3 linked regions of the Homo sapiens genome follow. The protein of the gene in region 1 purifies or fractionates together with the protein of each later gene. This does not show direct contact. Each region holds a gene or a part of one and is shown on either strand. Other genes may lie near its edges.

The links.
Region 2: the proteins of RDH13 (region 1) and ATAD3C purify together in Homo sapiens (affinity purification with mass spectrometry; one large-scale study listed by BioGRID and IntAct). This does not show direct contact.
Region 3: the proteins of RDH13 (region 1) and KDSR fractionate together in Homo sapiens (co-fractionation; one large-scale study listed by BioGRID). This does not show direct contact.

What each region holds. Positions count from the first base shown.
Region 1 is NC_000019.10:55,056,574-55,060,222, forward strand, and holds part of RDH13 (retinol dehydrogenase 13 isoform 1 precursor), read right to left. Parts: intron 2,703-3,649; coding exon 2,584-2,702; intron 236-2,583; coding exon 80-235; intron 1-79. UniProt on the Homo sapiens protein: Retinol dehydrogenase with a clear preference for NADP. Oxidizes all-trans-retinol, but seems to reduce all-trans-retinal with much higher efficiency. Has no activity toward steroids.
Region 2 is NC_000001.11:1,448,226-1,452,488, reverse strand, and holds the start of ATAD3C (ATPase family AAA domain-containing protein 3C), read right to left. Parts: upstream 2,801-4,263; 5' UTR 1,806-2,800; coding exon 1,731-1,805; intron 444-1,730; coding exon 367-443; intron 125-366; coding exon 55-124; intron 1-54.
Region 3 is NC_000018.10:63,357,176-63,360,824, forward strand, and holds part of KDSR (3-ketodihydrosphingosine reductase), read right to left. Parts: intron 2,618-3,649; coding exon 2,561-2,617; intron 1-2,560.

The sequences.
Region 1 (3,649 bases):
TGCTTCATTCACTTCTCAGAGCCTGGCCCTGGGAGCCGCCTATCCCAGTCCTCATCCCACATGGCCAGCGTTCTCCTACCTTCAATGATCTTTGCTGCAAACTCTCGGATAGACTTGAGGGAAGCCAAGTCCAGGTGCCGGGCGTTGACATGGTGATTGAGGGTCTCCCCGCGGATGTCCTTTGCTGCCGCCTCACACTTCTCCATGTCTCGGCAGGCCAGGATGATGTTGCCTCCTGAAAACCCAGGATGGAAAAAGATTTAAATTAATAATCCACTCCTGGGTACTGACCCCAGAGACATGAAAACATACGTCTACACAAAAACACATCCACCAATGTTCACTGCGGCATTCTTCACAAAAGCCAAAAGGTAGAAACAACCAAATGCCCATCTGTGGATGAAGGGACAACAAAATGTGGTCCATCCATAGAGATGGAATATTAGACGGCCGTGAAAAGGAGTGAAGCACTGGCTCATGCTACAGCAAGGATGACCGTCAGAAACACTGTGCTCGGGGAAAGAAACCAGACACGAAAGACCACACAGCGTACAATCCCATTTACATGAATTCTATGTATATGATTTCACACCTATGAAACGCCCAGAATAGGCAAATCCATAGAGAAAGAAAATAGATTCTTGGTTTTCTAGGGCAGGGGGTGGGGAGAGGGAATTACAGCTTGATAGTTACAGTGAGCAGGTTTCTTTCTAGGGTAACAGATGTTCTAAGATTGATTTTAAAGATGGTTGCATCATTCTGTGACTATACTAAACATCACTGAATTGGTCGGGCACGGTGGCTCACACCTGTAATTCCAGCACTTTGGGAGGCCAAGGCAAGAGGATTCCCCATCCTCTCCTTTTTTTTTTTTTTTTAGATGGAGTCTCACTCTGTCACCCAGGCTGGAGTGCGGTGGCGCAATCTCGGCTCACTGCAACCTCCACCTCCTGGGTTCAAGCAATTCTCCTGCCTCAGCCTCCCGAGTAGCTGGGATTACAGGCACCTACCACAACTAGCTAATTTTTTATTTTTTTATTTTTAGTAGAGACAGCGGTTTCACCATGTTAGCCAAGCTAGTCTTGAACTTCTGACCTCAGGTGATCCACCCCGCGGCCTCCCAAAGTACTGGGATTACAAATAAGCCACAATGCCCAGCCTCCAATTTTTTTTGTTGTGGTAAAATACAAATCACTTAAAATTTATCATCTTAACCCCCTTTTCTTTTTGTTTATTATTATTTTTTTTTTTTTGAGTCAGTCTCACTCTGCTGCCGCGGCTGGAGTGCTGGCGCCATCACAGCTCATTCAGCCTTGAACTCCTAGGCTCAAGTGACCTGGGACTATAGGTACCACCTGTGCCAGCATGCCTGGCTAACTCTGGTAGAGATGGGGGTGTTGCTATGGTGTCCAGGCTGGTCTGGAACCCCTGGCCTCAAGTGATCCTCCTGCCTCAGCCTCCAAAAGTGCTGGAATTATAGATGTGAGCCACCGAGACCCGCCCTCTTAGCCATTTTTAAGTGTCCAGTTCATTGGTATTAAAAACATTTATGGCTGGGCCGGGCATGGTGGCTCACACCTGTAATCCCAGCACTTTGGGAGACCAAGGCAGGTGGATCACCTGAGGTCAGGAGTTCAAGACCAGCCTGGCCAACACATTACAAACTTAGCTGGGTGTGGTGTTGCATGCCTGTAATCCCAGCTACTCGGGTGGCTGAGGCAGGAGAATTGCTTGAACCCGGGAGGCGAAGGTTGCAGTGAGCCAAGATCATGCCACTGCACTCCAGCCTGGGCGACAAGAGCAAAACTCCATCTCAAAAAAAAAAAAACAATAATAATAATTCCTAATGTTGTGCAACCATTACAACCATCCATCTCTCAAATTGTTTCATCTTGCCAAACTAAACTTCCGTTTCCATTAAACAGTAACTCCCCATTCTCCCCTCCCCTCCTGACCCCTGGCAAGCACCATTCCAACTTCTCTATGAATTTAACTGTAGGTAGCTCCTGTAAGTGGAATCATACCGTATTTGCTCTTCTGTCGACTGGCTTATTTCACTTCATGGAATGTCCTCAAGGTTCATCTGTTTCAATGCCCTTTTTTTTGTTTTGCTTTGTTTTGTTTTGTTTTTGAGTCTCACTCTGTCACCCAGGCTGGAGTGCCGTGGCGCCATCTCTGCTCACTGCAACCCCTGCCTCTCAGGTTCAAGCGATTCTCCTGCTTCAGCCTCCCAAGCAGCTGGGACTACAGGTGCCCACCACAACTCCTGGCTAATTTTTGTATTTTTAGTAGAGAGGGGGTTTCACCATGTTGGTTAGGCTGGTCTCGAACTCCTGACCTCGTGATCCGCCAGCTTTGGCCTCCCAAAGTACTGATTACAGGCGTGCACCACCGCGCCCGGCCAGAATGCCCTTCCTTTTTAAGGCTGAATCATATGCCCCTGTCTATAGAAGCCACATTCTGTTTCCCTGTTCATCTGTGGATGGGTGCCTGGGTTCCTTCCACCTCCGGACTGTGAATAATGCTGCAGTGAGCATGGATGTACAGATATCTCTCTGAGAGCCAAAGCAGGGGAGATTTTACCTCTCCTGGCCAGTTCCAAGGCGGTCTGCTTCCCGATGCCTGTGTTGGCACCCGTCACGATGACCGTCTTCCCAGGGATGGTGGCCTTGCTGGGGCAAGCCCCACCGGTGACATAGTCCCTGAGGGTGAGAAGCGGCACGGTCAGTCCTGTGGGCCCACTCTCACCCCACGTGCCCCTGACTGAATGATCTCAGGCAACCTTGTCTGAGCTCACTCACATACCCCAACTGAAACACAGACATCATCACATCACACCAAGGGACCTCTGTCATGTTCTCCATAAGTGGCTCCACCCAGTGTCTGGCGTGTGGAACGCCTTCAGCAAGTGACAGTCATTATTTTATAAATGCTCACTGCATGAGATTCCCGGCCAGGTGAGGGGGCTTGCACCTGTAATCCCAGCACTTTGGGAGGCCAAAGTTTTGGGGGTGGGGGGGGGCGGGGGCGGATCACTTGAGGTCAGGAGTTCGAGTCCAGCCTGGCAAACATGGCGAGACCCCGTCTCTACTTAAAATACAAAAATTAGCCAGATGTGTAGGGAAAAGAGAGATTAGACTGTTACTGTGTCTATATAGAAAGGAAAGACATAAGAGACTCCATTTTGAAAAAGACCTGTACTTTGAACAATTGCTTTGCTGAGATGTTGTTAATTTGTAGCTTTGACCCAGCCACTTTGACCCAATCTGGAGCTCACAAAAACCTGTGTTGTATGAAATCAAGGTTTAAGGGATCTAGGGCTGTGCAGGAAGTGCCTTGTTAACACAATGTTTCCAAGCAGTATACTTGGTAAAAGTCATCGCCAGTCTCTAGTCTCAATAAACCAGGGGCACGATGCACTGCAGAAAGCTGCAGGGACCTCTGCCCTTGAACACAGAGTATTGTCCAAGGTTTCTCCCCGTGGGATAGTCTGAAATATGGCCTCGTGGGATGAGAAAGACCTGACCGTCCCCCAGCCCAACACCCGTAAAGGGTCTGTGCTGAGGTGGATTGGTAAAAGAGGAAAGCCTCTTGCAGTTGAGAGAGAGGAAGGCCACTGTCTCCTGCCTGACCCTGGGAACTGAATGTC
Region 2 (4,263 bases), on another chromosome or scaffold:
CCCCACATGCTGCCCCTCAGCCACCTGCCAGCCCTGTTTTATGAGTATGTTTACCGTGGCTGTCACTTTGTCCCGGTCTGTCACAAAGGCACGGAATCCTTCCCCAAACAAGGTGCCAGCCGCCCTGTGGGGAAAGCAGTGGTGTGACCAGGAGGGAAACAAAGACCCACGCCACGTAGCAAGAACAGGTTGAGGGTGAGGCCTTGACACAGCAGCCTGGTCCTGCCAGGACAGGGGGGCAGTGTCCCCACCAAGGAGCCAGCCTACAGCGGCCAGACCTGGGAGAGCTGGAGAGCACCCTGGGACCAGCGACTCACACCTGTGGGGGCTCCATCTGCGGCCGGCCCGGGCCTCGGCAGCGCTCACCTGATGGACTCCAAGAAGGTCTGATGGTGCTTCTGCACGGACTCCTCCTGCTTCCGTAAATCCTCATTGACAAGTTGCTGAGAAGAAGCCGCAGAAAAAGAGAAAAGCCTTTAAAACCAGAAAAATGCTCAACACCAATCCAGAGGTTGCGTCCGCCCCAGGACCGCAGGGCTCCAAGCGTCCCGGGCACCTGGGGACCTGCAGACGCCGCACCCTGACACAGACACGGGTGACATCGGCCGGGACGGCAGTCACTGAGGGGATGGGTTCAGGGGCCCAAACTCCCCAGCGGCAGAAACAGCCCCCACTGTGGCTTCCCTGACAAGGGCCACTGCTGGCCGACCTCCCAACACCACTGCCCTGATTCAGGCTGGGCTTAAGGAAGCTTCTGTCTTCTGCCAATTAAACGTTAAAGCTACAATGCCCACAACAGGCAACACGTGAACCCCGCCTGTGAGCTCAGGACTGAAGGTGACCGGCCGGGCACCGTGGCTCACACCTGTAATCCCAGCACTTTGGGAGGCCGACGCAGGTGATCACTTGAGGTCAGGAGTTCAAAACTAGCCTGGCCAGCATGGTGAAACCCTGTCTCTAATAAAAATACAAAAATTAGCCGAGTATGGTGGTGGGTGCCTGTAATCCCAGCGACTTGGGAGGCTGAGGCAGGAGAATGGCTTGAACCCAGGAGGCAGAGGTTGCGGTGAGCTGAGATCGCACCATTGCACTCCAGCCTGGGCAACAGAGTGAGACTCCGTTTCAAAATAAATAAAATTAAAAAATCTTGCTGAGCTGGACGCGGTGGCTCACGCCTGTAATCCCAGCACTTTGGGAGGCTGAGGCAGGCGGAGATCAGGAAATCGACACCATCCTGGCTGACACGCTGAAACCCCATCTCTACTAAATATACAAAAAAAATTAGCTGGGCGTGGTGGCAGGTGCCTGTAGTCCCAGCTCCTCAGGAGGCTGAGGCAGGAGAATGGTGTGAACCCGGGAGGTGGAGCTTGCAGTGAGCCAAGGTCGCACCACTGCACTCCAGCCTGGGCGACAGAGCAAGACACCATCTCAAAAAAAAAAAAAATCCTGCTGAGTCAAAGAAATGAGGTGAGAATGTCAAGAAGATCCAGGCCCTCAGGACGACCAGACGCCCTCACCAACACCGGCCCTCCCTCTCGGGCGGCTCTGCGGCAGCGTCTCTCACCTCCCCTTGTTTCCTTCTGTGAAATGAGGCGCCCAAGCTTGGCCCTGGGCCCCACTGCTGCCCATGTACACACCCCCGGCCCTACCCACCGGCAGTAGCCCTACCAATCTCCACGCCCGAACCCCATGTGTGCCCCGGCCTCCCCGCCCACACCGGCCCCACTCACTTTGAGCTTGGACTGTTGCTCCAACTGCAGCGTCTGCTCCTGCATCTGCGCCAGATTCAGGGCGTCCTTTGACATGGCCTGCAGATGCAGGGACACGGAGGGCAGGTGTTAGGATACACGGATGCCGCTGGGCAGGCACGCACACCAGCCAAGGGGCTTTCTGGAATCCACGGCCACGCCTCGACCTCAAAGCCCCCAGCCCTGCCTCCCCATCCTCCTTCCTAGTCAGACCTGGCGTGACGATGCCCCATCCCCAGCACACGGCCTGATGCATTTGTGAGGTTTTATGCCCTCCAGGGATGGTCTTGGAGAGCCACATCAGGAAGGCCATCCCATGTGGACGGGAGGAGGCTCTTTCCCAATTCAACAGAAAGTCAGGCGATGGCTAAAGTGTCCATTTTTTCACGTTACACATGCTTTTTTTTTTTTTTTTTTTGAGACGGAGTCTCATTCTGGCCCAGGCTGGAGTGCAGTGGCATGATCTCTGCTTACTGCAAGCTCTACCTCTCGGGTTCACGTCACTCTCCTGCCTCAGCCTCCCGAGTAGCTGGGACTACAGGCGACCGCCACCACACCCGGCTAATTTTTGTAGTTTTAGTAGAGACGGTTTCACCGTGTTAGCCAGGATGGTCTCGATCTCCTGACCTCGTGATCCGCCCACCTCAGCCTCCCAAAGTGCTGGGATTACAGGTGTGAGCCACCGCGCCCGGCACATACCCTTTTCCTAAGCTTCCAATGGCTGTTGTCAGTGATCTGCTATCAAGAACGTGCGGGCAAGAAAATGAAAGAATAAGAATTAGATAGCAGCCAACAAGCTCAGGGTGACGAGGACAAGCATCTGACAACGTCCTCAGTTACATTTTGTTCCTAGTGGGGAACCGACACAGGTCAATGTTTGGGTGACCTGGGACAGAAGTACGTATTCTCTGAGCTGCTGAGGACTCAGCATCAGGTCTCAACATTTTCCGGGATGAGTTTTCCCATCACAAAATTTTACCATAAAAATCTTCTGGCCGGGCGCGGTGGCCCATTGAGAAAATATGCAGGACCTTGGGGAGTTAATCATGAAGGGGATTAAAGAATCCATGCCCGGAACCCAGAATCTTACCCGAATATTTAACATACAGCAAGGAAAAGATAAAGGGCCTGCGACATAATTTTTAGACAGATTAAAAGAACAAATGAGAAAATATGCTGGTCGAGGTGTCGAGGATCCTCTTGGGCAAGGAATTTGTCACTAACAGTTGGCCAGATATTAACCACAAATTACAAAAGAAAGAACTAGAAAAATAAGCCTGTAGAAGAGATTCTAAGAGAAAGGGAAAAAAATCTTAGAGGAAAGAGAAAGACTGACAGAAGGAACAGAGAAAGTCAGAGAGAGAGAGAGAGTCAGAGAGAGAGAGAGACAGAGTCAGAGAGACAGAGTCAAAGAGAGAGAAAGACTGACAGAGGGAACAGAGGAAGTCAGAGAGAGAGAGAGAGTCAAAGAGAGAGAGAGACAGGCAGAGACAGAGTCAGAGAGAGAGACAGAGTTAGAGAGTGAGACAGAGACAGACAGAGAGAGACAGAGTCAAAGAGACAGAGAGAGCCAGAGAGAGAGAGAGACAGAGTTAGAGAGAGAGAGAAAAGGAGAGATAGAAGTAGTCAAGAAAAAGCAATGTGCCCCATTCTTTTAAAAGCCAGAGTACGCCCGGCGTGGCAGCTCACCACGCCTGTAATCCCAGCACTTTGGGAGGCCGAGGCGGGCAGTTCAGGAGGTCAGGAGATCATCCTGGTTAACATGGTGAAACCCTGTCTCTACTAAAAATACAAAAAATTAGCCGGGTGCGGTGGTGGATGCCTGCAATCCCAGCTATGCAGGAGGCTGAGGCAGGAGAATTGCTTGAACCCAGGAAAGACAGAGGTTGCAGTGAGCCGACACAGTGCCACTGCACTCCAGCCTCGACGACGAATGAGACTCTGTCTCAAAAAAAAAAAAAAAAACAACTTACCGAAAGGCATGGAGGCCACTGACAACTATCCTTAATGTGGTAACCCACAGACGGCCGTAGTGCATTACAGGACGACACTTATTTAAAGATAGTTCCTCCCAGGTGATTCGAGGAAAAAGACACAATGGGTAATCAGTAACTAACAGGAAAAACTCTTGTGGAAATAGAGTTAAGAGGCCGGGCTCTGTGGCTCACACCTGTAATCCCTGCACTCTGGGAGGCTGAGGCGAGTGGATCACCTGAGGTCAGGATCACCTGAGGTCAGGAGTTCGACAGCAGCCTGGCCAACATGGTGAAACCCCATCTCTACTAAAAATACAAAAATTAGCTGGCCGTAGTGGCAAGCACCTGTAATCCCAACTACTCAGCATGCTGAGGCAGGAGAATCGCTTAAACTCAGGAGGTGGAGGCTGCAATGAGCCGAGATCACGCCATTGTACTCCAGCCTGGGTGACAGAGTAAGACCTCCGTGTCAAAAAATAAAAAATAAAAAAATAGAGTTAAGAAAGTTTCCTAATAACTGGTCTGCTCAAGCATGAGAG
Region 3 (3,649 bases), on another chromosome or scaffold:
AAGTCTGTCAATACCAAGTATTGGCAGGGATGTGGCGCAACAGAAACCGCATTCCTACTTATGGGAGCTTAACCACTTTGGTGAGGTTGAAGAACTGCATACACTACAGCTCTGCAATTCCATTTCTGGGTATGTACCATTCTTGCACACGTGCACAAAGAGAATACTGAAAGCTTTTCTAATAGTAAAAAACAAAACAAACTAACAAAAATACTGGGAACAAACTAAATATCCACCAATTGCTGAACTGATGAACAAAATGTAGTCTATACATACAATAGAATACTACGCAGCAGTAAAAAAAAAAAAATTTACTCCAACTTTTTGCAGCAACATAAATGAATTTTTAAAATTATATATATATATACACATATATATACATACATACATACATACATATATATATATATATATATATATTTTTTTTTGAGATGGAGTCTCCCTCTGTTACCCAGGCTGGAGTACAGCGGTGCAATCTCTGCTCACCTCAAGCTTTGCCTCCCAGATCCAAGTGATTCTCCTGCCTCAGCCTCCCTCCTGAGTAGCTGGGGTTACAGGTGCAGCTAACTTTTTATATTTTTAGTAGAGACAGGGTTTCACCACTTTGTCCAGGCTGATCTCAAACACCTACCTTCAACTGATTTGCCCGTCTCGGCCTCTCAAAATGTTGGGATTACAGGCATGAGCCACCGCACCTGGCCTAAAGAATAATATTGAGTGGTCTGGGAATGGTGGCTCACACCTGTAATCCCAGCACTTTCAGAGGCTGAGGCGGGCGGATCACGAGGTTGGGAGTTCGAGACCAGCCTGATCAACATGGTGAAACCCTGTCTCTACTAAAAATACAAAAATTAGCTGGGCGTAGTGACGCGCGCCTGTAATCCCAACTACCCAGGAAGCTGAGGCTTGAACCCAGGAGGCAGAGGTTGCAGTGAGCTGAGATTGTGCCACTGCACTCCAGACTGGGCAACAGAGCGAGACTCCATCTCAAAAATAAATAAATAAATAAGAAATAAATAATAATAATATTGAGTGAAGAAATCAAGTTGCATAAGAAGCATAAAGAAGGAAGTTATACAAATCTATAGAGAAAGAAAGTAGATGAGTGACTGCCTAGCTGAGAAGAGGCTGGGAGGAAATGGCAAGTGACTGCTAATACACATGGAGATTCTTCACGGGGTGAGGAAAACATTCTAAAATTGATTTTGATGACAGTTGCACAACTCTATGAATACATTAAAAATCATTGAATTATATATTTTAAATGGGTCAACTGTATGGTATATAAATTATATCTCATAAAGCTGTTAAAAAATAAGAATGATATAATAAAAGAAGTAGAACTAAGTATATTGGCCAGGCATGGTGGCTCACGCCCATAATCACAGGACTTTGGGAGGCCAAGGCAGGCAGATCACCTGAGGTCAGGAGTTTGAGACTAGCCTGACAAACATGGTAAAACCCTGTCTCTACTAAAAATACAAAAAAAATTAGCCGGGTGTGGTGGCACACACCTGTAATCCCAGCTACTCAGGAGGCTGAGGCAGGAGAATCGCTTGAACCCGAGAGGTGGAGGTTGCAGTGAGCCAAGATGGCACCACTGCACTCCAGCCTGGGTGACAGAGAGAGACTCTGTCTCAAAAAAAAAAAAAAAAAAGAACTAAACAATATATTATTATTTAGAGTTATGTGCATATATGGTAAAATTAAAAAGAAAAAGAGGCAGGGCACAGTGGCTCACTCCTATAATACCAGCACTTTGGGAGGCAGAGGTAGGCGGACTGCTTGAGCCCAGGAGTTGAAGACCAGCCTGGGCAACATGGCGAAACCCCATCTCTACCAAAAATACAAAAATTAGCCATGCATGATGGCACGTGTCTATAATCTCAGCTACTAGGGAGGCTGAGGTGGGAGGACTGCTTGAGCCCAGGAGGTCGAGGCTGCAGTGAGCTGAGATCGCACCCCTGCACTCCAGCCTGGATGACAGATTGAGACACTGCCTCAAAAAAAAAAAAAAAAAAAAAAAGGAAAGAAAAAAGAAAAGAAAAAGAAAGGATTAACACCAAAAATCGGGTTGGCATTTGCCCCTCTAGGAACAAGAAAAGAGGGACAAGGCTGCTGTGGGGGCTTCAGAGACCCTGATCATTTCTACTTCTTAGGCTGGGTGATGGGTGTGTGATTATTAATTTGCTATTATGTTTTATACTGAAATATAAATAGCATTTTATTCATCAAAAATTCCATAACCAAATAAATTTTAAATATTCCTTTCCTCTTAAGCATTTGTATAAAGTTCATTAAAAAAAAAATTAAAATGAAATTATTTGCCAGTAAAACATTCTGTTATTTGACCATTTGTAGATATGAATGTGTGTGGGAGTCTATTCATTTTGCGTGTGTGTGATATTCTGAGTTACTAGACCATTCAAACAATTCCACCTTTTAAAAAACAGTACATATATGCTTTCAATTAACTATTCACAGGTGAAGTAACTCTGTTTTTCCTTTATACAGCTGTGCTGAGTTATACAGAAAATGCATTCTGAAGACAGAGATTTACCTGTTTGTCATTAATAGAGTGCATTTCAATTTCTTTCTTTGCCTGCAGCAGCTTATCCTGAAAGCAATACAGAATAATTAGTCGTGATGACCGTCTATATGCATGTCCGTTTATTGCAAAGGAGAGAAAAAAAGCAATTATTTCTATATGTATGTATTAAATTCCAGAAAACACACAAAACAGTATCTACATTGCATAGACAGACTGGGCCACAGCCTATGAAAGAAAGAAGTTGTGAAGTATGTTAAGCTATGAATAAGTGATAAAAGTTTGAAAATTAATTAGAGAAAGATAGTAGAAAACAGATAAACCTCAAAATCCCAGTTAACAGTACTAATTGCTGAGGCTGACTCTACAGTTCTAATAAATGTCTTATTATTTAGTTGTGATATAAGACAAGAACAACTCTATTAATATGTACTGCTCCCCAAAGTTGAGGGTATGTGTGACTCCCTGTCAATACTGCTTTTTGTCCAATATTTTCTTCTTCTACTATAAACCCAAACATAGTAAGAATCACTTTCTGGATAGACTGGGTAAACTAGGCCTGGCTACTATAAAATACTCTTAAGCAAGGTTACCTGTGTAATTATGTAATTCTTCCAAGGTCCTAATTTTGTTTGTTTTACTTAGTCTCAAGAAAACAGATATCAGATTATCTTAATTTGCTGTAAAAAGTAACTTAAATAATATCATGCAATAGAGAGGAACCAAAGGAGAGGCGAATTCTTCCAAAAGGCATGCAGAGTTTCTAAACCTGAATATGTCTATAATGAAATAATATTGTCCTATGACTAAAGATACATACAGCTTGACTTTGCAAAGACTGGAATTAAAAATTACATTAGAAAAGAAAGAATTTCTCAGCCAGGCATGGTGGCTCACCCCTGTAATCCCAGCACTTTGGGAGGCCAAGGTGAGTGGATCACCCAAGCTCAGGAGTTTGAGACCAGCCTGGGCAACATGGTGAAGCCCCGTCTCTACCAAAAATACAAAAACTTAGCCAAGCATGGTGGCGAGCACCTGTGGTCCCAGATACTCAAGAGGCTGAAGTGAGAGGATTGGTTGAGCCTGGGAGGCGGAGGTTGC